Linked DNA regions of Homo sapiens: all the other regions are reported to be linked to region 3. Evidence: microRNA targets listed by miRTarBase, many of them from high-throughput screens and not tested one by one. Region 3 holds a microRNA gene; each other region holds the end of a gene's coding sequence.

What was found. The annotated mature microRNA hsa-miR-6836-3p reads AUGCCUCCCCCGGCCCCGCAG and lies in region 3 at 2,438-2,458, opposite strand. An mRNA with a match to its seed (bases 2 to 7 or 8) in the 3' UTR can be bound and repressed. Matches are read on the target gene's strand: a 7mer-m8 pairs with bases 2 to 8, a 7mer-A1 pairs with bases 2 to 7 and ends in A, and an 8mer does both.
Region 1: miRTarBase lists ZNF517 as a target of hsa-miR-6836-3p. Seed matches in the 3' UTR shown: 7mer-m8 at 2,047-2,053.
Region 2: miRTarBase lists SLC22A9 as a target of hsa-miR-6836-3p. The part of its 3' UTR that is shown has no 7-base or 8-base seed match.
Region 4: the mRNA of RAB40B is a reported target of hsa-miR-6836-3p. Seed matches in the 3' UTR shown: 7mer-m8 at 2,472-2,478 and 7mer-m8 at 2,721-2,727.
Region 5: the mRNA of KIAA0408 is a reported target of hsa-miR-6836-3p. Seed matches in the 3' UTR shown: 7mer-m8 at 672-678.

The regions. Positions count from the first base shown.
Region 1 is chr8:144,807,765-144,812,891 of GRCh38, forward strand. It overlaps ZNF517 (zinc finger protein 517), which reads left to right. Exons shown (of 5, transcript NM_213605.3): 5 at 1-2,320. The coding sequence ends at 631. It overlaps LOC100130027 (a long non-coding RNA gene), which reads right to left. Exons shown (of 5, transcript NR_147501.1): 5 at 1,046-3,312. Among named protein-coding and RNA genes, the nearest start is that of ZNF517, 11 kb to the left of the region's middle.
Region 2 is chr11:63,409,360-63,414,486 of GRCh38, forward strand. SLC22A9 (solute carrier family 22 member 9) reads left to right here. Exons shown (of 10, transcript NM_080866.3): 10 at 443-935. The coding sequence ends at 503. Among named protein-coding and RNA genes, the nearest start is that of SLC22A9, 42 kb to the left of the region's middle.
Region 3 is chr7:2,255,078-2,260,200 of GRCh38, forward strand. It overlaps MIR6836 (microRNA 6836), which reads right to left and starts at 2,500; the gene lies at 2,438-2,500. It overlaps SNX8 (sorting nexin 8), which reads right to left. Exons shown (of 11, transcript NM_013321.4): 8 at 2,658-2,726; 9 at 2,288-2,437; 10 at 1,797-1,946; 11 at 1-92. RefSeq lists enhancers at 2,835-3,614, 3,615-4,394, 3,715-3,804, 4,315-4,384.
Region 4 is chr17:82,653,385-82,658,511 of GRCh38, reverse strand. RAB40B (RAB40B, member RAS oncogene family) reads left to right here. Exons shown (of 6, transcript NM_006822.3): 5 at 1-21; 6 at 378-3,539. The coding sequence ends at 649. Among named protein-coding and RNA genes, the nearest start is that of WDR45B, 7.5 kb to the right of the region's middle.
Region 5 is chr6:127,439,739-127,444,738 of GRCh38, forward strand. It overlaps KIAA0408, which reads right to left. Exons shown (of 6, transcript NM_014702.5): 6 at 1-4,544. The coding sequence ends at 4,371. SOGA3-KIAA0408 (SOGA3-KIAA0408 readthrough) reads right to left here. Exons shown (of 13, transcript NR_174482.1): 13 at 1-4,544. Among named protein-coding and RNA genes, the nearest start is that of KIAA0408, 17 kb to the right of the region's middle.

The DNA.
Region 1 (5,127 bases), not on the chromosome of region 3:
CACCGGGGAGAAGCCCTTCGCGTGCACAGAGTGCGGCAAGGCGTTCTGCCGCAGGTTCACCCTCAACGAGCACGGCCGCATCCACAGCGGGGAGCGGCCCTACCGGTGCCTGCGGTGTGGGCAGCGCTTCATCCGAGGGTCCTCGCTCCTGAAGCACCACCGGCTGCACGCGCAGGAGGGTGCCCAGGACGGCGGCGTGGGGCAGGGCGCCCTGCTCGGAGCTGCGCAGAGGCCCCAGGCGGGGGACCCGCCCCACGAGTGCCCGGTGTGCGGGAGGCCGTTCCGACACAACTCCCTGCTGCTGCTGCACCTGCGCCTACACACGGGCGAGAAGCCGTTCGAGTGCGCGGAGTGCGGCAAGGCCTTCGGTCGCAAGTCCAACCTCACTCTGCACCAGAAGATCCACACCAAGGAGAAGCCCTTCGCGTGCACCGAGTGCGGCAAGGCGTTCCGCAGGAGCTACACGCTGAACGAGCACTACCGGCTCCACAGCGGCGAGAGGCCATACCGGTGCCGCGCCTGCGGGAGGGCCTGCAGCCGGCTGTCCACCCTCATCCAGCACCAGAAGGTGCACGGCCGCGAGCCCGGGGAGGACACAGAGGGCAGGCGGGCGCCCTGTTGGGCTTCCTGATGACGGGGACGACAGGCCGAGGATTCACGCTGGAAGCCCACCCAAGCCGGCGGGGCCCTAGCGCAGAAATTCAGAACCCCCTGTCCTGAAGGTGAAGCAAAGTCTAAAGAAAGGGCCAGCTCCCATCAGGAGCTCGGCTTCTTGCTCCAGCCGGGCACTGGGGAGGGAAAGGGCACCAGGCAGCCCGTGGTGTGGCCTCAGGAACCACTATCAGCCACCATTTCCTGGGGCCTTCCGGAAATGTCCAGGAGCGGGCAGAAGGGAGAGAGGGAGGGGCAGCTATGCTCAGTCCCCAAAGAGCAGGGCACAGGGGGCGCCACAGACGCATATGCAGCTGAGCTCCCCACAGGCCGGCCCGGGTCTTCGTGCAGAACCATTGGGCACAGCCAGGCCTTAGCGCCAGGCTCCGTGTGGCGGTCAATTCCAGGTGCTGTAAAGCCGACTAACAGGGTACAGGGAGCCTTAGCTGGCTGCCATGTCTCCTGCCTGTAATCCCATCACTTTGGGAGGCTGAGGTGGGAGGTTTGCTTAAGCCCAGGAGTTTGAGACCAGCTTGGGCAACATGGTGAAACTTCTCTACAAAAAATTTAAAAATAAGTCAGGTATCGTGGTCTGTGCCTGTACGCTGTAGTCCCAGCTACTCAGGAGGCTGAGGTGGGAGGATGGGTTGAGCCTGGGAAGTCAAGGCTGCAGTGAGCTATGATAGCACCACGGCACTCCAACCTGGTTGACAGAGTGACACCCTGTTTAAAAAAAAAAAGCCTAGATGGCTGGTGGAGCTCTATCTATCTATCTATCTATCTATCTCTTTTTTTGAGGCAGGATCTCTCTGTCAGCCAGCCTGGAGTGCAATGGCACAATCATGGCTTACTGCAGCCTCCAGCTCCCAGGCTCAAGCGTTTCTCCCACCTTAGCCTCCTGAGTAGCTGGGACTAAGGCACACACACTGTACTTGGCAGCTGGCGAAGCATTGTTTCTGAGTGTGTGAGGATGTTTTCAGTGGACTCAGTGAAGATCTGCCCTCAGCGTGGGCAGGCACATCCACTTGGTTGGGGACCCAGATGGAACACAAAGGGAGAAGACAAGCAAATTCTCTTTTCTGGAGGGAGACACCCATCTCCTGCCCTTGGACATCAGGACTCCAGGTTCTTCGGCCTTTGGACTCAGGCTTGCCACAGAGGCCTCCCAGGGCTCTCGGCCAGTCAGCCTCAGAATGAGAGTTACACCACTGGCTTCCTTGGTTCAACCACCTTCTTACCTGGACTGAGCCTCACTTACAGCTTCTCTAGGTCTCCAGCTTGCAGACAGCCTATGGGAGGACTTCTCAGCCTCCATAAGTGTGTGGGCCAGTTCGCCTAATAAATCCCCTCTCCTGGCCGGGCGCGGTAGCTCTCCCCTGTAATCTCAGCATTTTGGGAGGCAGAGGTAGGTGGATCACCTGAGGTCAGGAGTTCAAGACCAGCCTGGCCAACATGGTGAGACCCCCGTCTCTACTAAAAGTACAAAAAGTAGCTGGGTGTGGTGCTGGGTGCCTGTAATCCCAGCTACTCGGGAGGCTGAAGCAGGAGAATCACTTCAACCTGGGAGGTAGAGGTTGCAGTGAGCCGAGATCGAGCCACTGCACTCCAGCCTGGGTGACAGGGCAAGACTCTGTCTCAAACAAATAAAAATCCCCTCTCCTAAACTCCATTATTGGTTTTGTCTCTCTAGAGGACCCTAATACACTGCCCAGCAGAAGCCAGGAAGGAAGCCCTGCCAGCTCAGAAGGTGGGCCAGGAGAGAAGGGTGTGGCCGGAAGGGTAGCCGGTGGGGGTGCTGCATCCTCTTGGCCCCACGGGGAGCACCCTGTCACCCCTAACAGATGAAGAGAAGGTGAGGGGGGATTGAGTTACCTGCCCACTGGTGTGTCAAACTCCATGATGGGGGTGGGAACATGCAGACCTGGCCCCTCCAAGGCCCACTGCTCCCCGGGCTGTGCGCCCCACAGTCTGTGCCAGGGGCTGCAGAAAGAGCCATGGGAAGCCTGGCCCTGGTAGGGCACCAAGATGGGGAGGGCTGGATCCACCCTCCAGAGAACAAGAATCCTGGGCAGTAGCCGGGACATGGTGGGGGAGGCTGAAGGGTTGTCCCTGAGCATCCCCAACATGGAGCTCGGAAGTCTGGGCCATGGGCAGGAAAGCACGAAGGTCAGGGCCAGCCTGGGGAACCAAGAGCTGTGCCACGATCCCTTCCACCTGGGGCAGCTGCCCACATGCCCGCCACTGGGTTCCATCACCTGAGACTCCTGGCAGGTGCCTCTCTGAGTCTTTGTCCTGTGCTGGAAACTGGGATGTGCAGCACACATCTTCACACCCACAGCACGGACAGCGGGAATAACACTTCCTTTGGGGATCCAGGGTTTCTGGTGTCTCCAGATTTTTCAGGCGCCACCATGTTCCTCTCATCCAGACGTCAGCACCCAAGGTGGAAGCAGGTCATGGCATGCCCGGCCCAGCTGCAGTCCGAGTGCAGATCCCATGGCGAGCGTGGGATCCAGCCCAAAGCACAAGCCACGCACAGCCCGCCAGGTTGAGTGGGCAGGTACCTCCAACAGCCAGCCCAGGTTGAGTGGGCAGGTACCTCCAACAGCCTGGAGCCGTGAGGCCTTGCGCAGGGGCGTTGCCGGCCGTGGAGGTCTCTGGCTGGCAAAGTGGCACCGAAAGAGTCCTGTGTCATAACCAGACTCACTTGTAGCTTCTGTTGCTCTCCCTAGCTATTTGCAAAGCATCCAGGATAGGTTCATCTAAAGACATTCTGACTCATCTTGGACACGATCCACTTACTCTGTGGACCCTGTTCACAGAACCTGGAGTCCCTGCTCACCTTCCCCAACCCCTTATTGCTGGGTCATGTTCACAAGTTTCTGTCTCTTTTTGTTCCCAGTCCCGGTACCAGCTCAGGTCCAATCAGCTTCTGAACCTCTACTGTGCAGCGCCTGAGACAGGGTGGGAGAGACACCGACAGTAAAGCTCAGCCAGGTGCAGACTGCAGCCTGGAAGCAAAGGCTGAGACAGGGTGGGAGAGACACCGACAGTAAAGCTCAGCCAGGTGCAGACTGCAGCCTGGAAGCAAAGGCTGAGACAGGGTGGGAGAGACACCGACAGTAAAGCTCAGCCAGGTGCAGACTGCAGCCTGGAAGCAAAGGCTGAGACAGGGTGGGAGAGACACGGACAGTAAAGCTCAGCCAGGTGCAGACTGCAGAATGGAAGCAAAGGCTGAGACAGAGTGGGAGAGACACCGACAGTAAAGCTCAGCCAGGTGCAGACTGCAGCGTGGAAGCAAAGGCTGAGACAGGGTGGGAGAGACACGGACAGTACGCTCAGCCAGGTGCAGACTGCAGCCTGGAAGCAAAGGCTGAGACAGGGTGGGAGAGACACGGACAGTAAAGCTCAGCCAGGTGCAGACTGCAGAATGGAAGCAAAGGCTGAGACAGGGTGGGAGAGACACGGACAGTAAAGCTCAGCCAGGTGCAGACTGCAGCCTGGAAGCAAAGGCTGAGACAGGGTGGGAGAGACACGGACAGTAAAGCTCAGCCAGGTGCAGACTGCAGAATGGAAGCAAAGGCTGAGACAGAGTGGGAGAGACACCGACAGTAAAGCTCAGCCAGGTGCAGACTGCAGAATGGAAGCAAAGGCTGAGACAGGGTGGGAGAGACACCGACAGTAAAGCTCAGCCAGGTGCAGACTGCAGCCTGGAAGCAAAGGCTGAGACAGGGTGGGAGAGACACTGACAGTAAAGCTCAGCCAGGTGCAGACTGCAGAATGGAAGCAAAGGCTGAGACAGGGTGGGAGAGACAGGGACAATAAAGCTCAGCCAGGTGCAGACTGCAGAATGGAAGCAAAGGCTGAGACAGGGTGGGAGAGACACGGACAGTAAAGCTCAGCCAGGTGCAGACTGCAGCCTGGAAGCAAAGGCTGAGACAGGGTGGGAGAGACAGGGACAATAAAGCTCAGCCAGGTGCAGACTGCAGAATGGAAGCAAAGGCTGAGACAGGGTGGGAGAGACACGGACAGTAAAGCTCAGCCAGGTGCAGACTGCAGAATGGAAGCAAAGGCTGAGACAGGGTGGGAGAGAGACGGACAGTAAAGCTCAGCCAGGTGCAGACTGCAGCCTGGAAGCAAGGGCAGTGCCATCCTCTTTCGGGGCATTTCTGGTCACTTCAGTCTGCTGGGGGGATTCCGTGTCTCACCAGGAGACTCAGGCATGGACCTGGGTTGCCACTTTCTTCCTGTTACATGGATCTCTCTACCATGCCCCAGACCCAACACCTCAGCCTTCTCAAAGCTGCACTGCAGAAGTTCTAGCCAGAGCAGCCTGGTAAGAGAAAGACGTAAAGAGCATCCAAATACTTCCTTCCAAATGAGGAAGCCAAATGGTCCTTGTTTGCATTCAACGTGATCTTATATATAGAAAACCCTAAAAGCTTTATCAAAACATTCTTAGAACAAACAAATTCA
Region 2 (5,127 bases), not on the chromosome of region 3:
CTTCCCTGGTCTACAGTGGAATAAGAATTGTCTTGGGCCACACATAAAATACACTAACACTAATAATATCTGATGAGCTAAAAAAAAAAAAAATCACAAAAATATCTCATAACATTTTAAGAAAGTTTACAAATTTGTGTTGGGCCACATTCAAAGCCATCCTGGGCCACAGGCAGCCTGTGGGCCATAGGCTGGACAAGCTTGCACCAAGGCGTCCAAGGATGACAAGTAGAAAGTATCCAAGCTGCCTTCCCAGATCCTAGTCTGGGAGCTTCATCTTTTACTTCACAAGGTTTACTCAATCCCTTGGGGGCAGAGATATGGTTTTTACCAAACTAATGGACAAAGAATCAACATTCCTTAAAGAATGCGGGACTTACATGTTTAGTCCATGTCTTTTCATTTTTGTGATTTTTTGTTGGTTTCTTTGTATTTGTTCTAGGAGAAAAGACCCCAGAGAACCAAAGCAAGAGGATCCGAGAGTGGAAGTGACGCAGTTTTAAGGAATTCCAGGAGCTGACTGCCGATCAATGAGCCAGATGAAGGGAACAATCAGGACTATTCCTAGACACTAGCAAAATCTAGAAAATAAATAACAAGGCTGGGTGCGGTGGCTCACGCCTGTAATCCCAGCACCTTGGGAGGCTGAGGCGGGCAGATCATGAGGTCAGAAGATAAAGACCACCCTGGCCAACATGGTGAAACCCTGTCTCTACTAAAACAAATACAAAACTTCGCTGGGCACAGTGGCACAGGCCTTTAATTCCAGCTACTTGGGAGGCTGAGGCAGGAGAATTACTTGAACCCAGGAGGTGGAAATTGCAATGAGCCAAGATTGGGCCACTGCATTCCAGCCTGGTGACAGAGCGAGACTGTCTCAAAAAAAAAAAAAAAAAAAAAAGAAAGAAGGAAAGAAAGAAAGAAAAGAAAAGAAATAACAAGATATAGTGAGTCAGTAGATTCACTTCACAATTGTGGTACTAAATAACTAAATATAAGCTATCTACATATAATAGTAAGAAAAAGTTTGAAGAAAATTATATAACACTTTAAAATCAATCATAATAGACTATTTATGTAGTTATAGGTCCCTAGCAAGTTTCTGGATAGGAAGATTGAGTACTATTAAACACAATGTGTCTTCTTCAATTATTTGATAGAGTAACTGGTGGGATAATTACAATGAAAAATCTGCTACTTTTACAAAAACTTTAAAATAAATTCAAATTTATCTAGGAATTAATAGTAGACATTTGGTTCAGAAAAAAGAAGATCAGGGAGTGAAAAATGTAGCTGTCAGGTAAGTGGGGTAGCATGCACAGAATTTTATCATAAGTTGTAATATTCATAACATTATTAGCAGATGCATTTACAAAACAAAGAAATTCAAAAGTAGACTTTAGTATGTATAACATTTAATGTGTAACAATTTCAGTATTGTACATTCTTAGAGGAAACACCTAATTATGGAATAAATAGCATTAGCCAACTAATCAGAAATAAATGACTAACAATTCAACTTTATATCCTGTATTAGTCAGGGTTCTCTAAAGCAAGAGAAATAATAGTATATATGTGTATATAAAAGTGAGTTTATTAGGAGAATTGACTCACACGGTCACAGGATGAAGTTCCACACTAGGCCATTTGCAAGCTGAGGAGCCAGGAAGCCAGTCCAAGTCCCAAAACCCCAAAAGTAGGGAAGCTGACCATATAGCCTTCAGTCTGTGGCCAAAAGCCTGAGAGCCCCTGACAAATCACTGGTGTGAGTCCAAGAGTTCAAAAGCTAAGGAACCTGAAGTCGGATGTTTGAGGGCAGAAAGTATCCAGCATGGGAGAAAGATGAAGGCTGAAAGACTCAGCAAGTCTGCCCTTTCCATCTTCTTCTGCCTGCTTTATTCTAGCTGCACTGGCAGCTGACTAGATGGTGCCCACCCAGATTGAGGGTGGGTCTGCCTCTCCCAGTCCACTGACTCAAATGTTAATCTCCTTTGGCAACACCCTCACAGACACACCCAGGAACTATACTTTGCATCCTTCAATCCAATCAAGTTGACACTCAATATTAACCATCACATTTCCTAAACCAATATACCAATTATTGATTATGATTATGACAATCATTTCACATTGTATACATACATGTATCATCACACTGTACATCTCAAATATATGCAAGTTTTATTTGTCAATCATACTTCAGTATAGCTGAGAACAAGTTAAATGGAACAAATAAACCATGCTTTCAAAGGAGCCTTGGCTACCAAAATTCAAAAAAGAAAAACATGTTATTAATAGGAAAGTAAATTCCAAATAAACATATATATACTTGACTACTCATTTAAGCCTTCTGTGAAGAAAACCCAAGAAATTATGGGAGAAAGCTATAAAAATATACAACAAAATGATTAAAAACATTAAATTTTCATGGTAGACCTCAAAGTTATTTAACTTTCTTCTTTGTAAGTGTATTCTAAGTTGAAGCAAGGAATATGCAACAGCTTAAAATTTTATAAATTATATAATTTTTTCACAGAATTAGGAAAAACAATTTTTAAAATCACATGGAACCAAAAAAAAAAAGAGCCTGCATAGCCAAAGTAATACTAAGCAAAAGGAATAAATTGGAGGCATCACATTATCCAACTTCAAGTTATACCACAAGGCTATAGTAACCAAAACAGCATGGTACTTGTATAAAAGTAGACACATAGACCAAAGGAACAGAATAGAGAACCCAGAAATAGAGCCCCATACTTACAACAAACCTATCTTCAACAAAGCATACAAAAACATAAATAGGGGAAAGAACATCCTGTTCAATAAATGGTGCAGGGAAAACTGGATAGCCACATATAGAAGAATAAAACTGAATCCCTATCTCTTGCCATCTACAAAAATCAACTCAAGATGGATCAAAGACTTAAATTTAAGTCCTAAAAATTCTAGAAGAAAATCTAGCAAAAACATTTCTGGACATTGGTCTGGGCAAAGAATTTATGTCTGAGACCCCAAAAGCAAATGCAACAAAAACAAAAATAAATAAATAGGATCTAATTAAATTTTAAAAATTCTTCACAACAAAAGAAATAATCAGAAGAGTAAACAGACAACCCACAGTGTAGGAGACAATATTCACAAATCATCATCTTACAAAGGACTAATATCCAGAATCTACAAGGAACTCAAATCAGCAAGAAAAAAACAATCTCCTCCAAAAGTGGGTAGGACATGAATAGATAATTCTCAAAAGAAGATGTACAAACAGCCAACAAACATATGAAAAAATGCTTAAGTGCAAGAAGGGCGATTAAAATGTCAAAAAAAATAGATGTTGGCATGTATGTGTTGAAACGGGAATACTTATACACTGTTGTATCCTCTCTGGAACACAGTATGAAGATTTTTCAAAGAATTAAGAGTAGTAGAGAAAATAGCAGATGTACCATTCAATCCCGCAATCCCACTGCTCGGTATCTACCTGTATTAGTCTGTTCTCACACTGCTATAAAGAACTGCCCGAGACTGAATAATTTATAAAGGAAAGAGGTTTAATTGACTCACAGTTCTGCATGACTGGGGAGGCCTCAGGAAACTTACAATCATGGCAGAAGGGGAACCAAATACTTCCTTCTTCAAATGATGGCAGGAAGGAGAAGAATGAGTGCTGAGCAAAGGAGGATACCCCTTATGAAATCATCAGATCTCGTGAGAACTTAGTCACTATCACAGAAACCGCAGCACAGGAGTAACTGCCCCCATGATTCAGTTACCTCCCACCGGGTCCCTCCCATGATACATGGTGATTATGGGAACTACAATTCAAGATGAGATTTGGGTGGGGACACAGCCAAACCATATCACTACCCAAAGGAAAAGAAGCCATTATATAAAAAAAAAAAAACCTGCATGCATGTTTATTGCAGCACAATTCACAATTGCAAAAATATGGAACCAACCTAAGTGCCCCGCCACCAATCAGTGGATAAATAAAATGTGGTACATATACATCATGGAATACTACTCAGCCATAAAAAGAAACAAAATAATGTCTTTTGCAGCAACTTAGATTGGCTGGAGGCCATTATTCTAAGTGAAGTAACTCAGGAATGGAAAACCAAATATTGTACGTTCTCACTTATAAGTGGGAGCTAAGCTACAGGTATACAAAACATATGGAGTGGTATAATGGACATTAGATACTCAGAAGGGGAGGGGAAAAAACCCTACATATTGGGTACAATATACACTACTTAGGTGATGGATGCACTAAAACCTCCAACTTTACCAGTATACAATTCATCCATATAACCAAAAACTACTTGTACCCCAAAAGCTATTGAAATAAAAAATATACATATATTTAAAATTCAGATGACATCCACTCAGAAAAAAATTATAAATTATTGTTATATTTTAAATTACAAAATACAAGATAAACTTTAGAAGACATACATATTTAGATTTCTTATGTCTATGAAAAAAGAATACATGATTCAATATACTATTGGGGAACACCAAGAACATATAATTTTCAAAGGACTAAAGTCACATGACTAAACATTTATGAAAAAGTGTGCAAGCCTATTGGAAATAGAATAGCATAAAAGGTCCAGAAATAAATCCAAGCATATATGGCCAACTAATTTTGGACAGGGACACCAGAAAGACACAATTGAAAAAGGGTACCCTCTTCAATAAACGGTGCTAGAAAAAAATTGTATTTCCACATGTAAAGGAATAAAATCGAATCCTTATCTTACACCATATACAAAAATCAACTTAAAATGAATAAAAGACCTACATGTAAGACCATAAAACTCTTGGAATAAAACATAGGAGAAAGAAGAGAACATAGCTCCTTGACATTGGCCTTGGCAACAATTCCATTCCTTGGATAATACACTAAAAGGTCACGCTACAAAGGCAAATATAAATAGATAGGACTACATTAAGCCAAAATGTTTCTGCACAGCAAAGGAAACAACAAAATCAAAAGGCAACCTATGGATTGGAAATATTTGCAAACTATATATCTGATAAGAGGTTAATATCCAAAATTTATGTAAAAACTTACACAACTCATTAGTAAGAAAATATATAATTCAATAATAAATGGACAAAATG
Region 3 (5,123 bases):
TCCGGCGGGGAGCACGGTGGGGTCAGGGTGCTGTGTGGTCCCGCAAAGAGGCAGCTGAGCTTGGGCCTCAGGTCGTTCCACACCTTGCTCATCTGAAAGGGAAGCGAAGAGAACAAGATCAGCAGGCGGGGCCGGGGCTCCTCCTCACGCTCTGATCCCAGTTCCTTCGCCTGCCAGTGACAGGGAGGGAGGGGCCCTCAGGTGCGCCAGCTCCTCAAACCTCTGGCAGAACCAGTGCTGCCCATCCTGCACAGAGGAAGCCCAAATGAGGAGTGGACCAGCGACATGTGACCTGTGGTCACAGACACCCACGCTTCGATCCCTGCACCCAGGACCAAAGGGCTGCAAATCTGCCTGCCGTGGAATCGTGAGAAACGTTACTATCGCGTCACTGCCAGTACATGCTCTAGCTGCCGTGCGGGCACTGGCCTCATGGAAGCCTTGGCAGGTCAAACACCAAGGCCAGCCTGGGCAACACACGGACACCCTGTCTCCACAGAAAATCAGAAATATGAGTCGGATGTGGTGGCACCTGCCTGTGGTCCCAGCTACTCGGGAGGTTGAGGCTGCAGTGAGCTGTGATTGCACCACTGCACTCCAGCTTGGGTGACAGAGCAAGACTCCACCTCAAAACCAAAAAGCAAACCAAAAACACAAAGACCACATCCACCAAATCAATAATACCCAAACCGGAATGCAAACGGCGGCCCCACTCGCCAAGCACTTTTGGAACCAGGGCAAGGAACGGATGCTGTGGATGTGAGGAGGGGAGCGCGGCAGTGAGGCAGGGGTCAGGCCAAGACCTGCCGTGCAGGGGCTCAGGTGGCCAGAGAAGGGCAGGGCGCACCCTGGGGGCCTGCAGGGGAGGCTGAGTCACTGGACCACAGCGCACACAGCATCACAGGGCTGGAAATTCCTCACCACCACAATAAAAAACCTGGTAGGACTGGGGTTATGGCATCATGCTCCGGGCGCCTGTTGGTCCCATTCCTTCACTGAGGACACACCCGGCCACTCACATGTCCAAGTCCAACCTGGTCCCTGAGACCCTGGCCATCTCACAGTGATGCTCCTAACACGGCGGCTGTCTACCGCCTCTCCAGCCCCACCACGGCCGCCTCCAGCCTGCCATTCCCAAAGTGCTGGACGGCACCCACGGCACCAAGCACCTCCCGGGGACAGTGTGGAATCTCGTGACCACCCCAGACACTCGGTGCCATTCCACACACACCACAGACCATGGCTTGAAAGCTACTTGCAGCTACTTAATAAACTTAATTTCAGCCGGGCACAAGGTGCTCGCCTGTAATCCCAGCGGTGCTGCAGTGAGCTGGCCACCAGAAATCAACGGAGGCCTGTCCCAGGACCTTGGGAGCGTTTCTTCTCCCAGGCTGAAGGAACCGCCATCTGCTCTGGAGGAAGCCGGCCAGGGCTCTCTGGAAGAACAGCCACCTGCGGCGCTCCGAAGCGCTAGAAACCTTCTCTCAGCCGCAGGGTGCGGGAGCTCTGCGGGCTTTACCTCCGACTTCTCAAATCCCTCCAGGAGGCAAACTCTCCCTGTCTGCTCCTCCCTCCGCCCCCCAGGAATCACAGGGACACCCTCACGATTCTGATTTTGGCTACACAGGAGACTAGAAGATCCGGGCGAGCACCGTGTTCCAAGGCCCATGCGGAGCCCAACTCCACTAAAGAACCTCTCTAGGGCGGCCGGCCACCGCGCTGCCGGGCTTGAAGGAAGGGCGGAGGGACAAAGAAAGGCCGTGGCCGAGACGGCGGCCGGAGCAGGGCGGACTCACCTCCTTGTGCCCTTGGATCTGAGAGTTGACGAAGGCGCGGAGGATGTGGGAGGTGAGGGGCAGGTAGACGTGGATGAGCTGCGTCTCCTGGTGCAGGCAGTACAGGGAGAAGTAGTTCCGCAGCTCCATCGTCTGAATCGCGTTCTCCTGCTGCGGAGCAAACAGCCGCCTTTCGCACCCGGCCCAGCCGGCGACGGGAGCACCAAGGCCCGAACACCAGCGTGCTCCCTGAGCCAGGGCGGCCCCTTCTCCTTCAGCCTTCACCAGGCATTTGGAAGGTGGCGAGGTAAGAGAGGGCCGGGGAGGGAGCACCGTGCAGGGAGCCGCATCGCTCTGGGCACGCGGGCCAGCTCCCTGCCTCCACTGCACCCCCAGCTCTGTTCCAGACACAAGGAGCCAACCCAGGGGAGCCCACCAGGACGGCTCCGGGTCCCACCATGGCCGGGAGGGGAAAGGCTCCCACGGGCCTGCTCGGCCGCCCCGCCACCCACCTCCACAATGCGGGACTCCAGCTGCTCCACGGACTCCGGCTCGCGGTTCTGCGCGGTGGCGCTCATCATCTGCCTCTTCATCAGGCTGTACTTGTGCAGGGCCCGCTGGTGCTTGTGCAACACGCCCTTCTCATGCCGCTCGCACAGGTCCTGCGGGGCCGGGGGAGGCATTCGCCCGCTGTCTGGATGCCTGCGCCAGGGCCCTGCGGAGCCGGCCGAGGGAAGCACCCCCGCCAGACGGAAGGCCCCGTCTTCCCCTGCAGCCCTGGCTTCTCAGCTCCTCTTCCGTCCCCCAGGAGTTAGACCCTTGAAGGATCCTAAGATCATTCCTGAAAGTTCTGCCCCCAGCCAAGGAGCAGCCAAGACTCACCTTATAGGACTGCAGCAGATCCAAGAAGAGGTTCAGCTTCTCCACCACGTCGTTCTCTTCCTGCTTACCCTGGAAGGCGAGGGGGAGCTCACCCACGCGGACGCACATAGGACCCGGTCCCTGCCCGGGAACTCAGACCCAAGCCTGGCCTGGGCCGGTTCCTTCCTCCCAGAGTCAGACGGGCTCCCCAGGACCACCAGCCAGGTCTGCAGGGGGCCCCCTTCCCCACCAGCCCACCCATTACCAGGCGGACACGCCTTCGAGCCCAGCAGTCTTTTTTTTTTTTTTTTTTTGAGTCGGAGTCTTCGCTCTGTCGCCCAGGCTGGAATGCAGTGGCACGATCTCGGCTCACTGCAAGCTCCGCCTCCCGGGTTCACGCCATTCTCCTGCCTCAGCCTCCCGAGTAGCTGGGACTACAGGCGCCCTCCACCATGCCCGGCTAATTTTTTGTATTTCTTTTTTTAGTAGAGACGGGGTTTCACCGTGTTAGCGAGGATGGTCTTGATCTCCAGACCTCGTGATCCGCCCGCCTCGGCCTCCCAAAGTGCTGGATTACAGGCGTGAGCCACCGCGCTGGGCCTGGCCCAGCAGTCTTGATGGGAACAAGGCCTGCGTTCCCGCGGGACAGCTGCCCGCCCTCCTGCTCATCAGCCCGGCCTGCCTTGCCTTTCTCAGGCCTTCGCAAAGCCGGCGACTCTCCCAACACATATGCTGGGAGAGCCAGATGCCCCAGACCCCCCGACCCCTAAGGCTCCATCAAGCACTGCAGAAAACCCGAGTTCCCATATAACGCTGTGAGCCGTGTGCAAAACGGGCACGCCCAGGAGGGGCACGGAGGAGAACAAGGGTGTTGTCTCCGCATCAGTAACAGGAGAGAGAAACGCAGGCCTAGGAAGGGGGCACAGGGAAGGGGGCGCAGGGTAGGTAGGAGAGACAGCAGCTGCAGGAAGGACGTGCTGCTGATCCAGGAAGAGAGGCGGCCGCCCCAGGCTGCACGCAGAAGCACCACACTCGGCGGTGGGGGCAGCGGTGGACACAGGCTCCTCTTCGGCCCTCACACAAGGCTCTGTGCGGGCAGCACAGCCACAGAGAGAGCCCAACAGGGCAGTGAGTGCACAGCAAACGGCGGGCAGCCCTGGAGTGGAACAGGGGCCCCATCACGGCAGAGGGATGCCCTGCTCCCAGAGTCACCACAGCACCTGGGGACACGAAGCAGCCCCCACGGGCGAACCCCACCCAGACGCTGCCTCGGCCTCCCCGGCTTACACCAGTAGCAGCCCTCGGTGGGGGCGCAGGCCAGGCACAGTGCACACGGCCCGAACACACGGTGCTCAGAGGCATCTGCGGTATGAAGAGTCGGTCCAAAGCCCTGGGCTCCAGCTGCCACTGAGGGGAGCATCCAAGCTCTGGAGACAGCAGGGGTCTGGGGAAGGCAGCGGAAGCGGCAGCCCATCCACCCCTGACCTGCACAGCTCACCACAGACCCCCCAGCCACAACCGCAACCAAGCCAGGCCGATGGCAGGTATCCTGGGGAAACCCCCGACACTGACGCCTTCAGTCACACCCGGGCCCTGAAGGGCTCCGGTCCCCACAGCTCACGCCCTCAGTCCCCACAGCTCACTGAGCACCTCGGGGAGACCAAGCTCCCTCCACGATTCCTCGGGCTCCACCCGTGGTAGGGGGTGAAAAGCTCACCCCACGCACTGCACGTCAAGCTCAGCAGGAGACGGGGCAGGCAGAAGTGGATGGAACGAGTTTTACGGGACACAGCCCTGGAATGGGAGCCAGGGGTGCCGCCCAGGCCCTGCTGCACCCCAGGGGACCCTAAGATACCCCTTCCACCCTCCAGACCTCAGGCCGACTGAACCCGGAGGCTCCCCGGCCACCAACCCCACACCCAAAGCAGCTGGGATTCCAGCCAGTAAAATGTGCCAGGAGAAGAGGTGTGTTAAGAGTTTCTAAAACTCTAGAGAGAAAACGCCAGCTGACCGCAGGTGCCCAGCTCCCACCTGACCAGGCAGGGGCTCAGGAGAATGTAGGCTTATTCCCTGGCCCAGCAGAAGAGGGGGAGTTCAGGGGTCCCTCTGTTCGTGTCATTTGTCACCAAGTCCCATCTGTGGTTCAGTGCTGCACAAGGCCCTAAACCAGGGGTGTCCAATGTTTTGGCTTCCCAGGGCCACATTGGAAGAAGAAGAATTGTCTTGAGCCACACATAAAATACGCTAACACTATGATAGCTGATGAACTAAAAAAAACAAAAAAGGAAAAAAGAAAGAGAGAGAGAAAGAAAGAGAGAGAGAGGAAGGAAGGAAGGTAGGTAGGTCTGTGTGTAAATCTCATAATGTTTTCAGAAAGTTTACAGATTTGGCTTTTTTTTTGAGACAGAGTCTTGCTCTGTTACCCAGGCTGGAGTGCAGTGGCATGATCTCAGCTCACTGCAACCTCCGCCTCCCAGGTTCAAGCGA
Region 4 (5,127 bases), not on the chromosome of region 3:
GGCTCTGGCGGCCGAGCAAGGGTAGGCCCAGGGGCTATTCCGGGGGCCACCTCTGCCCTCCAGATGCCGAGGTGGGTCAGCGGCCCCCTGGATAAGTGTCTGCCTCCCGGGACCCGTCTCAAGGCCACTGTGTCCGTTCTCAGAGCAAGGCATTTGAGAGAAGTAATGACTACAGCTTTGTCAGAAAGCTCATGAGGGAGCTCCTGGGATCTGTACGTGGGCAGAGGGGACGTCGCGGCAGGGCTTGCTGCATGTACAAGCCAGGGCCACGGGCGTCCGAGCCTTGGGAGGGCGGGAGAACAGGTGTGGGCACCACCCCTCATTCCCAGCCCAGGTGGGGACATCCACTAAGCAAGGTTTATCTTTTCTCTCCCAAGTGCTGAGCTTGCAAGACCTCTGCTGCCGGGCGGTCGTGTCCTGCACGCCGGTGCACCTGGTGGACAAGCTCCCGCTCCCCATTGCCTTAAGAAGCCACCTCAAGTCCTTCTCGATGGCCAACGGCCTGAATGCCAGGATGATGCACGGCGGTTCCTACTCCCTCACCACCAGCTCCACCCACAAAAGGAGCAGCCTCCGCAAAGTGAAGCTCGTCCGCCCCCCCCAGAGCCCCCCCAAAAACTGCACCAGAAACAGCTGCAAAATTTCTTAAGGAAGGCACTGAAAGAAACACGGCGGAATCTCTCCAGGAGAAGCTCGGCGTTACCCCCGGCAGCTGGTGGATGCATCTCAGATCCCGGTTCCTCTCGGCGAATGCTGCTTGCGAATGTGTGCGACGCCTTCCGTGTGATGGAAACACACTACCCCGTCGGACTTCGAATTTCTACGTGGATGTGCATGAAGCTCTTGTTTTCGATGTGTGTTTGTAAAGGGAAAATTAGTACTCTGCTCGACTCTTGGTAACATGAAATTCTGAATGTTACTTTATCATGATTGCACTGCAACTTTTTCCTTAAAATAACTGCTTTTGTAAGAACGGTGATATTGGAGTGATTAGTATAAATTCAATGGAATTTGAGAAGCAATGGCAGCGGGATAATTTAGAGTCACTGATATTACGAGAGGGGTCTTTTTGTAAACCTCCTTTTCAATGTCAAAGCGCCAATTTATAAAACGCTGCAGATGTAGAGGTTATGTGCAACTGATCTGTCCAGTTTGTGTATGAAATGGATTTGATAAAGTTTTTGCTAGTTATTTACTACATTTTGGGATTAATAAGTGATTTATATGCATATTTTTCTGTAAATCTACAGTTTTTTGTACAAGATATTCTACAAGTTATGAAGCTAAGGGAAGAAAATGCCAAAGATACCTCTAGTTATGTTGAACACAGCCAGCACAGTTTCGACATGTCAAGGAAGAGCTGTTTCAGTAAAGAATGAAGTGAAAACACTTATTTAGGAAAATGTTTCTCAACAATAAAATGTATAGTTGTTTCTCTCTTGGTAGAGTTGGCGACCGGTTCTTTCGAATTTTGTATTTATTTATTTATTTATTTTTGAGACAGAGTTTCGCTCTTGTTGCCCAGGGTGGAGTACAATGGCACGATCTGGGCTCACCACAACCTCCGCCTCCCGGGTTCAAGCGATTCTCCTGCCTCAGCCTCCCGAGTAGCTGGGATTACAGAGGTGCACCACCACGCCCGGCTAATTTTTGTATTTTTAGTAGAGATGGGGTTTCACCATGTTGGTCAGGCTGGTGTTGAACTCCTAACCTCAGGTGATCCACCCACCTTGGCCTCCCAAAGTGCTGGGATTACAGGCGTGAGCCACTGCGCCCGGCCAGATTTTGTGTATTTCTTATAGCCCTTTACTTCACTGCGCCACTGCCTGGTGTAGACATCACATATCGGAGCTAATACACGACACTGGCAACAAGGCTGAATCCTTGAACTGTTGTCGCCTGTTGAGAAAGGATTCCTTTTCCGGAACAGAAGTGCAGAGGAGGAGAGAGCGGAGAGTTAAAAGCTGGCACCCAGGCATGTGCCTGTCTGAGAAATCAGAGCCGTGCTCCTGAGCCTCGGTGAGGAGCTCCGAGGGGCTGTCAGGAATTCCGCATGAAGATGTAGCCCCTGACCCCGACTGCCTCAGAGCAGGGCTGACCGCAAAGACCTCCAGGGCCGCTCTCTTCCCTGGTCACACTGTTGAACGTTTCTCTGTGGCTGGGGGTCGCAAATGAGGGACTAAACCAAAAAAACGAAGCGAGAAAATACCCAGATGTTCCTAGTTCCTGCTGATGATCTGTAGATTCTTAGAAACTTAAGGGACCCAGCTGGGTGTGATGGCTCACACCTGTAATCCCAGCACTTCAGGAGGCCGAGGCAGCCGGATCAGAGGTCAGGAGTTCAAGACCAGTCTGGCCAACGTGATGAAACCCCGTCTCTAATAAAATTACAAAAATTGGCTTGGCATGGCAGCGCACACCTGTAATCCCAGCTACTCAGGAGGCTGAAGCAGGAGAATCACTTGAACCTGGGAGGCAGGGGTTGCAGTGAGCCGAGATCGTACCACTGCACCCCAGCCTGGGCGACAAGTGAAACTCCATCTAAAAAAAAAAAAAAAAAAGAAATTTAAGGGACCCTAGAATCAGGGGCAAAGCCTGTATTCAGAGATGGTGGAACCGAGGCCCAGACAGGAGAGAGGAGCACTGGTCCCTGCGGGTGGACCCAGGCTTGGGGGTGTCTGGCCACCTGGGCACGGCAGCCACGGGGACAAAGTCCACGGGGAGGCAGGGGTGTGGTCTGTGGGCAGAAGGTGAACCCTGAGGGGACAGTGTCTGGAGAGGGTGGCCAGCCTCGTGCAGGCACGCTGCAAAGACCTGTGCACCCTTCTCTCTGCTGTGCCACAGGTGGGGTGAGAACGACAGGGCCGACCTCCCAGCTGCAAACACAAGGACACTGAGATGCACAGAAAGGAGAGTCCACGTTGAAGAAACCCACGTTGAGGGGCCTCTTCTCCCTCCGTTCCCAGCTCGCTGATGGTGAAGGGTAAGGAAATGGATCCTCCCATTGCAACATTAAACCAGGCCAAACCTGTATTTTTCTCTTCCTTCCTTTTTCTTGTTTTGTAATTGATGTCTCCTCGGGACTACTGATAATGTCCTAGAAAGAATAAAATAAAGTTTCCCAAGGCTTTGTGACTCAGAGCTCTTTGGAGGTGTTCACCGAATGCACGGGCCGCCCGGAGGCCTTGGCCCTCCAGGGAAACACCACCAGAAGTCCCCAGAAGCGGAACATGTAGCAAGGAGGCTCCCCGAGATCTCCCAGAGGGAGCACAGCCCTGCCAAGTTATTGGTTTTGGACTTCCGGCTTCCAGAGCTACGAGAAAATAAATATTTGTTATTTAAGTCACCAGGTTTGTGGCGATTGTTACGGCAGCCTCAGGAAACTCCTACAAGGAAGTGAGTTACGCTCACGGCAGAAAGTGCTACAGCAAACCAAGGCAGAACAAAAACAGACGAAACCTAATACAGACCGGACTAAGTAGAAGACTGTGTGTTTGGGTGGTGAATATACAAAAAACATAAATATAAATTAAACCTTAGAGAAACTTTGTCATTTTCTTGTCATGTTCAGAGGTGTGGCCTGTTGCTTTAGATCTACAGATTCTTACACACTTTCTTCTCTTAAGAAAGGCTGGCACCTGCCTTTTAAAACCACTGTCCTGGCAGGGCGCGGTGGCTCATGTCTGTAATCCTAACACTTTGGGAGGCTGAGGCAGGCGGATTGCCTGAGCTTAGGAGTTCAAGACCAGCCTGGGCAACATGATGAAACCCCGTCTCTACTAAAAATACAAACCACTAGCCGGGCATGGTGGTGCACGTCTATAGTCCCAGCTACTAAGGAGGCTGAGGCATGAAAATTGCTTGGACCTGGGAGGTGGAGGTTGCAGTCAGCTGAGATTGCACCACTGCACTCCAGCCTGAGTGACAGAGTGAGGCTCCATCTCAAATAAAAATAAAACCACTGTCCCTACCCTGCCGCAGTGCTGAACTCGAGCTGATACTGGTTTTTCTCCTCTACATTCCCATGATGACAGCAAACCCCGCTGGAGCACAGAGGCCCTGAGCCACTGTGGAGAGGGATTCCAAACTCCACCTAGTCCCAAAGCAGTTCTGTTGCTCCAGCCTTCACCCTCTTCTAGGTGAGGTGACCGGCTACTTCCCAGCAGCCCAGAGGTGCTGTCAAGGCTGTTAGCCAAAGGCCACCGTGAACGCCCCTGACTTGCTGCAGCACCAAGCCTCCGACCATCGAGAGGGTGCTGGGGAGTCAGGGAGGATGGGCGGGATTTGGGCAGCCTTGTGGAGGTTTTAGGGAATATTCACGGCAACCGCTGCACCCTGTTCGATGCTGTCAGGAAGCAGGGGTGACTCCGGGACTTACTATCTTAATAATTCTTATCTAGAAGGTGAGAAAAGTGCAGCAAGGTGCAAGGCGTCATTGGTAAAAAGTGGCAGTCACTCACATCCGGCAGGATGGGGAGTGTTGGTCGTCGGGGAGGTGGGCACTGCTCCCACCTGTGTGCAGAGGGGACCCTGCTCTTGTCCTGCCCCCTCGTCACAGGGCGGCCTTGTCCGCAGGGCCAGGTCCAACAGGAGCCTCCCAGGGCCTCGCTGTGCATGCTCAGGGGCTGCCTTGCTCTTTCTTGTCCTGCCCCCTCGTCACAGGGCGGCCTTGTCCGTGGGGCCAGGTCCAACAGGAGCCTTCCAGAGCCTCGCTGGTGCCCAGGGGCTGCCTTGCTCTTCCTTGGTGCCCTTTGAGGTGACAGGAAGATCGCCGTGTGGGCCACGGTGAGAGGCAGGCATACCGGTCTCCATGCCTTTGACCGGGCAGACGCTGACCTTCCAGTTCAGCTGGAGGAAGACTCTGTGTGTTGCTCAAAGCCAATCGCCACCATCTGCTGGTTTCTTGATTCCTTGCCTTGAATGTTTTCCTTTCTTTCTTTTAGAGACAGGGTCTCACTCTGTTGCTCAGGCTGGAGTGCAGCGGCACAATCACAGCTCACTGCAGCCTTGAATCCTGGGCTCAGTGGTCCTCCCACCTCGCCCTCCGGAGTAGCTGACTGCAGGTGTGCACCATCACACCTGGCTTTTTTTTTTTTTTTTTTTTTTTTTGGCAACAGGGTCTTCATA
Region 5 (5,000 bases), not on the chromosome of region 3:
ACTACTTAATTTTTCCTTCTTACTTAGAAATCACAATGCCTGCCTTGTAGTTTGTTGTAAGAAGCAGACAAGTCGTGGAATATGAATTTGCTTTGCAAACAATAAGGTCATAGATGCACATGGGACATTTATACAGGAGAGCAGATCATGAGTGAGCCCAGGCTTGGATTCTGTCCCTGCAATCTTGGCAGCCATGCAGACCTCTTTGAATCTCAGGTTTCCCACCTCTAAATGAACTTGTTCTGAGTTCATAGGTCCCTCAAAATCTAAACCGTTACCTACTTTCTAGATTTCTCCATAGCTTCATATAAACAGATTTTTTTCCTAAGAATTTGTTAATTTAACCTATTGGATTAATACTATCATTGAAATGTGTATCAGATTTTAAGTATCATGATTTTATTCCCAATAAAACAAAAAATTATTTTCTATGATGAATATGCATACAATAAAAATGACGAGAAATCATTTTTGGTACTTGTCTGAAGAACTCATCCCCAATTTTTGCCTTTTTTGCTTTGCAAAGCACATTTTCTTGTAGGAACATATTTTCAGGGTGAGATGAACAAGTCATAGTTATAAGTTCTTTTTTTTTTTTTTTTTTGAGACAGAGTCTCACTCTGTCACCCAGGCTGGAGTGCAGTGGCGCGATCTCTGCTCACTGCAAGCTCTGCCTCCCGGGTTCATGCCATTCTCCTGCCTCAGCCTCCCGAGCAGCTGGGACTACAGGTGACCACCACAATGCCTGGCTAATTTTTTGTATTTTTAGCAGAGAGGGGGTTTCACCGTGATGAAACCAGGATGGTCTCCATCTCCTGACCTCGTGATCCCCCCACCTTGGCCTCCCAAAGTGCTGGGATTACAGGCAAGAGCCACCGCGCCCACCAGTTCTAAGTTCCGATACATGTACTTGCTACTTAAGAAAAACATGCCGAATTTAAAGCAAATAGTACTGTAATAAAAAAATCTGATTTTCCTGAAAATGGTTTAATTTTATGATGTAAATGCAAATCTTAGAAGTAAAAACTTTTTTCAAAGAAGACTTTTATCAGACTCAATTAGCAGTTAAATGGGTAGAGAGAGGATGTCAGTGTACGAGAAGCCATATGGAGTTTTGGGTGGCCAGGAGCAGGAAGTCAGGCAGGTTTGGCTTCAGTTGTACTACCTAGAGATATTTTGGAAGAAGCTAGAGTGAACTGTGTACATATATGAGTTTAGATTTCATAAGACACTTAGCTTTACTGGAGTTCACTGCAGAAAATGAGGGAAAGAAAAATGTTCTCGATGTATACAAATGCCACAGACAGTTGTTTTTACACCTACTTTATTTGATAGCTTCTAATGGCTGAAGGAGATTTCAATATCAAGTAGTTGTTTGTCACAAATGTGCCTAAAAATAACTTTAAAGATCTTTGTAGGGAAGCAGAAACTCTTAAGTCCAGATGTTTTCTCAGGATAACTAAACCTGGTAAAATCACCTATATAGAAGTAAATAATATTTTATGGCCACATCTGCAAAATGAAATATGATCATCTTCATTGTCGATATAAAAACAAATGAAAGTTATGGGTAATTTTTGATAAAATGAATTATACAAAGCATCATTTATATTTTTATATTTGGCTTTGGGACATAAGGCAATATGGAGAACTTATGTGACACTGACACAAACACACACACACACACACACACACAAACTCAAGTACTCCTCTCTGCCTCATCCTTATTCCTTTCTGAGATCAGCCCATAATATCAGTAATCCTCTGCTGAACTAAAATAATATTTTTGCTCCAAAAGTCTGCTAGGGAAAACATCTATTAATATATGTTTTTAAATCAAATATTTCCAGAAATGCTTACAAGTCCCTTTAAATCTAGCAATGATAGCATAATAAAGGGCATATTCTAGGGAAGAAAATGCCCACCTAAAGTAGAAATTTACCAGTTAAAAATCACAAAACATCAAAAACTATTTTCAAGGATTATTTCCATTTACCTAATAGGTTTTTCCATTTAAAAGTTATAAAATATTTAAAAAGAGAAAACAGAACATTCAAATAACCTTAGTTTTTCAGTTTTACAATCAAGGAGTTGGACTAGATGCTATTTTTTTTTTCTCAGCTCTAACTATAATTTTAGTCAACATAAGAAGACGTTAAAATGTGTCCCACTGGTTCATTCAACTGTTAATAGAAAAAAGTGGCTTAAAATTGTGAAGTCTGAAAGTATAGCCATTCTAATTTACAGATAACAAAGGCAAGTCCTAGGAAGAAAAGTGACCACCCAAGGGCATCCATCCATTCAGAGATCAAGCAATGTCACTGTTTTCAAATCTGCCTGATCATCAATATTTTGCTTTGTTTTGTTTTGTTTTATTAATGGTTCTGGAGTCCCAGTCCCTACCCCTGGAAATTTTGCTTTAGTAATATGGGGTGAGATCAGAAATTTCATTTTTTAAAGAGATCCTCAATATTCTAAGGAACCACAGATCATACCAGACTACTTGGGATACACTGGTGGAGAGGAACAGATAGGTTGCACAGTCCTTGGGCAGGCTCTCCATTGTCACACAACAGCATTTTCCTAACAGGTCCGTCATTTTATGACCCAGGGTTCCTCTTTCCTGGTGTTTTCTCCCCTCTAGCTGGAAAGCATATTATGAGAGTGATATTACTTGGTGTCTAGTTTACTTTTCTTTGATAGCTTCCTGTGGAAAAGGATCTTCCTGAAGGAAATAAGAATTAAAAGAGTAGATGTATAGACCTTAGTTACCATCCAATACAAATCACTCTAGACCTTTAATTCCACTTAACTACCGAAACTGTCCTTACAGTAAAGTATGAATCTAGACATCACCATGCTACAGTCTTGAGCCTTTCAAGGAAGTCTGCAATTTGAAAATTATTTTCTTTACCTCAGGTCATGGGGTACAATGAAGTGAATTTCTCTAAATGGTTCAAATACATCATAAGGAGATGGCTCTTGGAATACATTTGGCATAAGAATTTCTTAGTAAAAGAAAAGCTTAAATAGAGTTAATATCTAATAACATAACATAATTGGTTTTATATAGTGACAGTAGAGAGCAAAGTTCCTTCTAAAATCTTCCATTTAGAATTCCAAGCCCCTCGACATTCATATTTCTGTCAGTTTTCAATATAGATTTTATGTGTTCACTGTATGCAAACTGTAGCCAAAATACACATTTCTATTCCTGATGCTACTGTGGATGTCAAGGTTTAGTTTAAGCCTTTTTTCGGTAGCAAACTGTGAGAAGTATAATTTCAGCTTTCAAAGAAATATTATTCCTGATCTTCCTTGTTAGTAAAAAAGTAACTTAGTTTGTTATCTATTAATTTTAAGGAAAAGATTAGAAAAAGGAAAAAAATAATAAATGACTTACCTCTAAGTATGTATGACTCCATGTTAAAGCAGCTAAACTAAAAGCTTACCACAACTTAAAGAAAAACTAAAATTCAACATCATTCAGTTTCTTTTTGCATCCCATTTAGGAAATGTTTGTTGCTGAGGCTGACAAAATAAATTCATCATTTAATCATGTCATTTATAATGCAGTCTCATGATACTGTCTCTGAGGATCAAATATTCAGTTAAAGCCATACTAGACTACCAAATAATATATAAAACATTTATGAACATTTTATGCTTGCTTTACAAGGCTGATCTATTAAACTTGTGACATTTTTATTTAAAAAGAATAAACAAGAATATCAATGGTATTATTTTATCCTTATATGGGTTAAGAAATTATTTATGAGTTGTCTTTAGAAATCTACCAATGTTAGATGTGTGCATAATTCTTCTTTTTCATTGTAGCTGGGGGCCAAGGAAGTGGTCAATTAATATTTGTACTGCAAATGCCTTAAGTGGATACCTATTAAAAGGTATACAAAATATAAACAGTACTGCATATTTTCAAAACTTTTAAATAAACACAAAGAATATATAGGTATACATGTTATAATTTCAAAGTCAACACTAGCACATAAGTTTTTCATATCTAAATACATACTAGGATACTTCCTATTTCAACACATGCACCTACAAACACATGGCCATGCACATAACCTTACTTTCTGCCACTTGCAACAAAGAATATACAATATTGTACATTGTTTCAACTTATATTGTATTGGAAAACTAATGAGGATGGCATTAAAAAATTCTGATCTAAGAAATCAAAATGCAGGAAGATAATTATTCCTTAGATTAAAAACACTGAAGACTGATGGAAAGTTAAGATTCAAATTGCTTGTCGGAAGAGAACAGGTCCGCCTGTAAACACTCAGAATGCTCTGTTTGACAAGTGGGACTAGAACTTCTGTAATATAGCAATCCAGGCCAAAGACTTAAACCATCAATGCTTCGGATCGCAGAGAAATGGTATAGTTGTGGGTAGTTCTCCGCAAGGCAGGGGGTGCAGATGGAGATCTGGATGCCCATCTGGAGGGGAGACGACGATTTGCTGGTCTAGCAGGTCGGGAAAATCCTTTTCCATGTGAGGCGTTCACTGACATGGATTCCTAGGACACAAGTAAAAACATTCCTCTCACTCTCTGGGTACCAACAATAGGCTTAATATATGATGGGTCTCAACTATAAGATTAGTCCGTTAGTAAATTTACAAGAAAGAAAAAGCATTGAAAACTAAAGAAGGTAGTTGTCTAATATTTGTGGTTTTGAATGTTTTAAAGCAATTCAATTTTAATATGGAATATGATATTTGATAATTTTGTACCTTTCCTTACACTGACAAATTTTAATACAGTTAATCTCTCTGTAGAACTAATGATGAGCTCAGGATTTAAAATTTCAAGTTAAATAACTTGAATATCATGGAAATACAGATGTTTCTTAGTGCGCTGTTAGTATGTTACAGTGTTATTTAAAAATAAAAAGATAATTTATAGAAGAAACTGTTCATTTATGTCAAATTCATTGACACTTTTAGAGGTGATACGCAAAAGGCACACAAACCA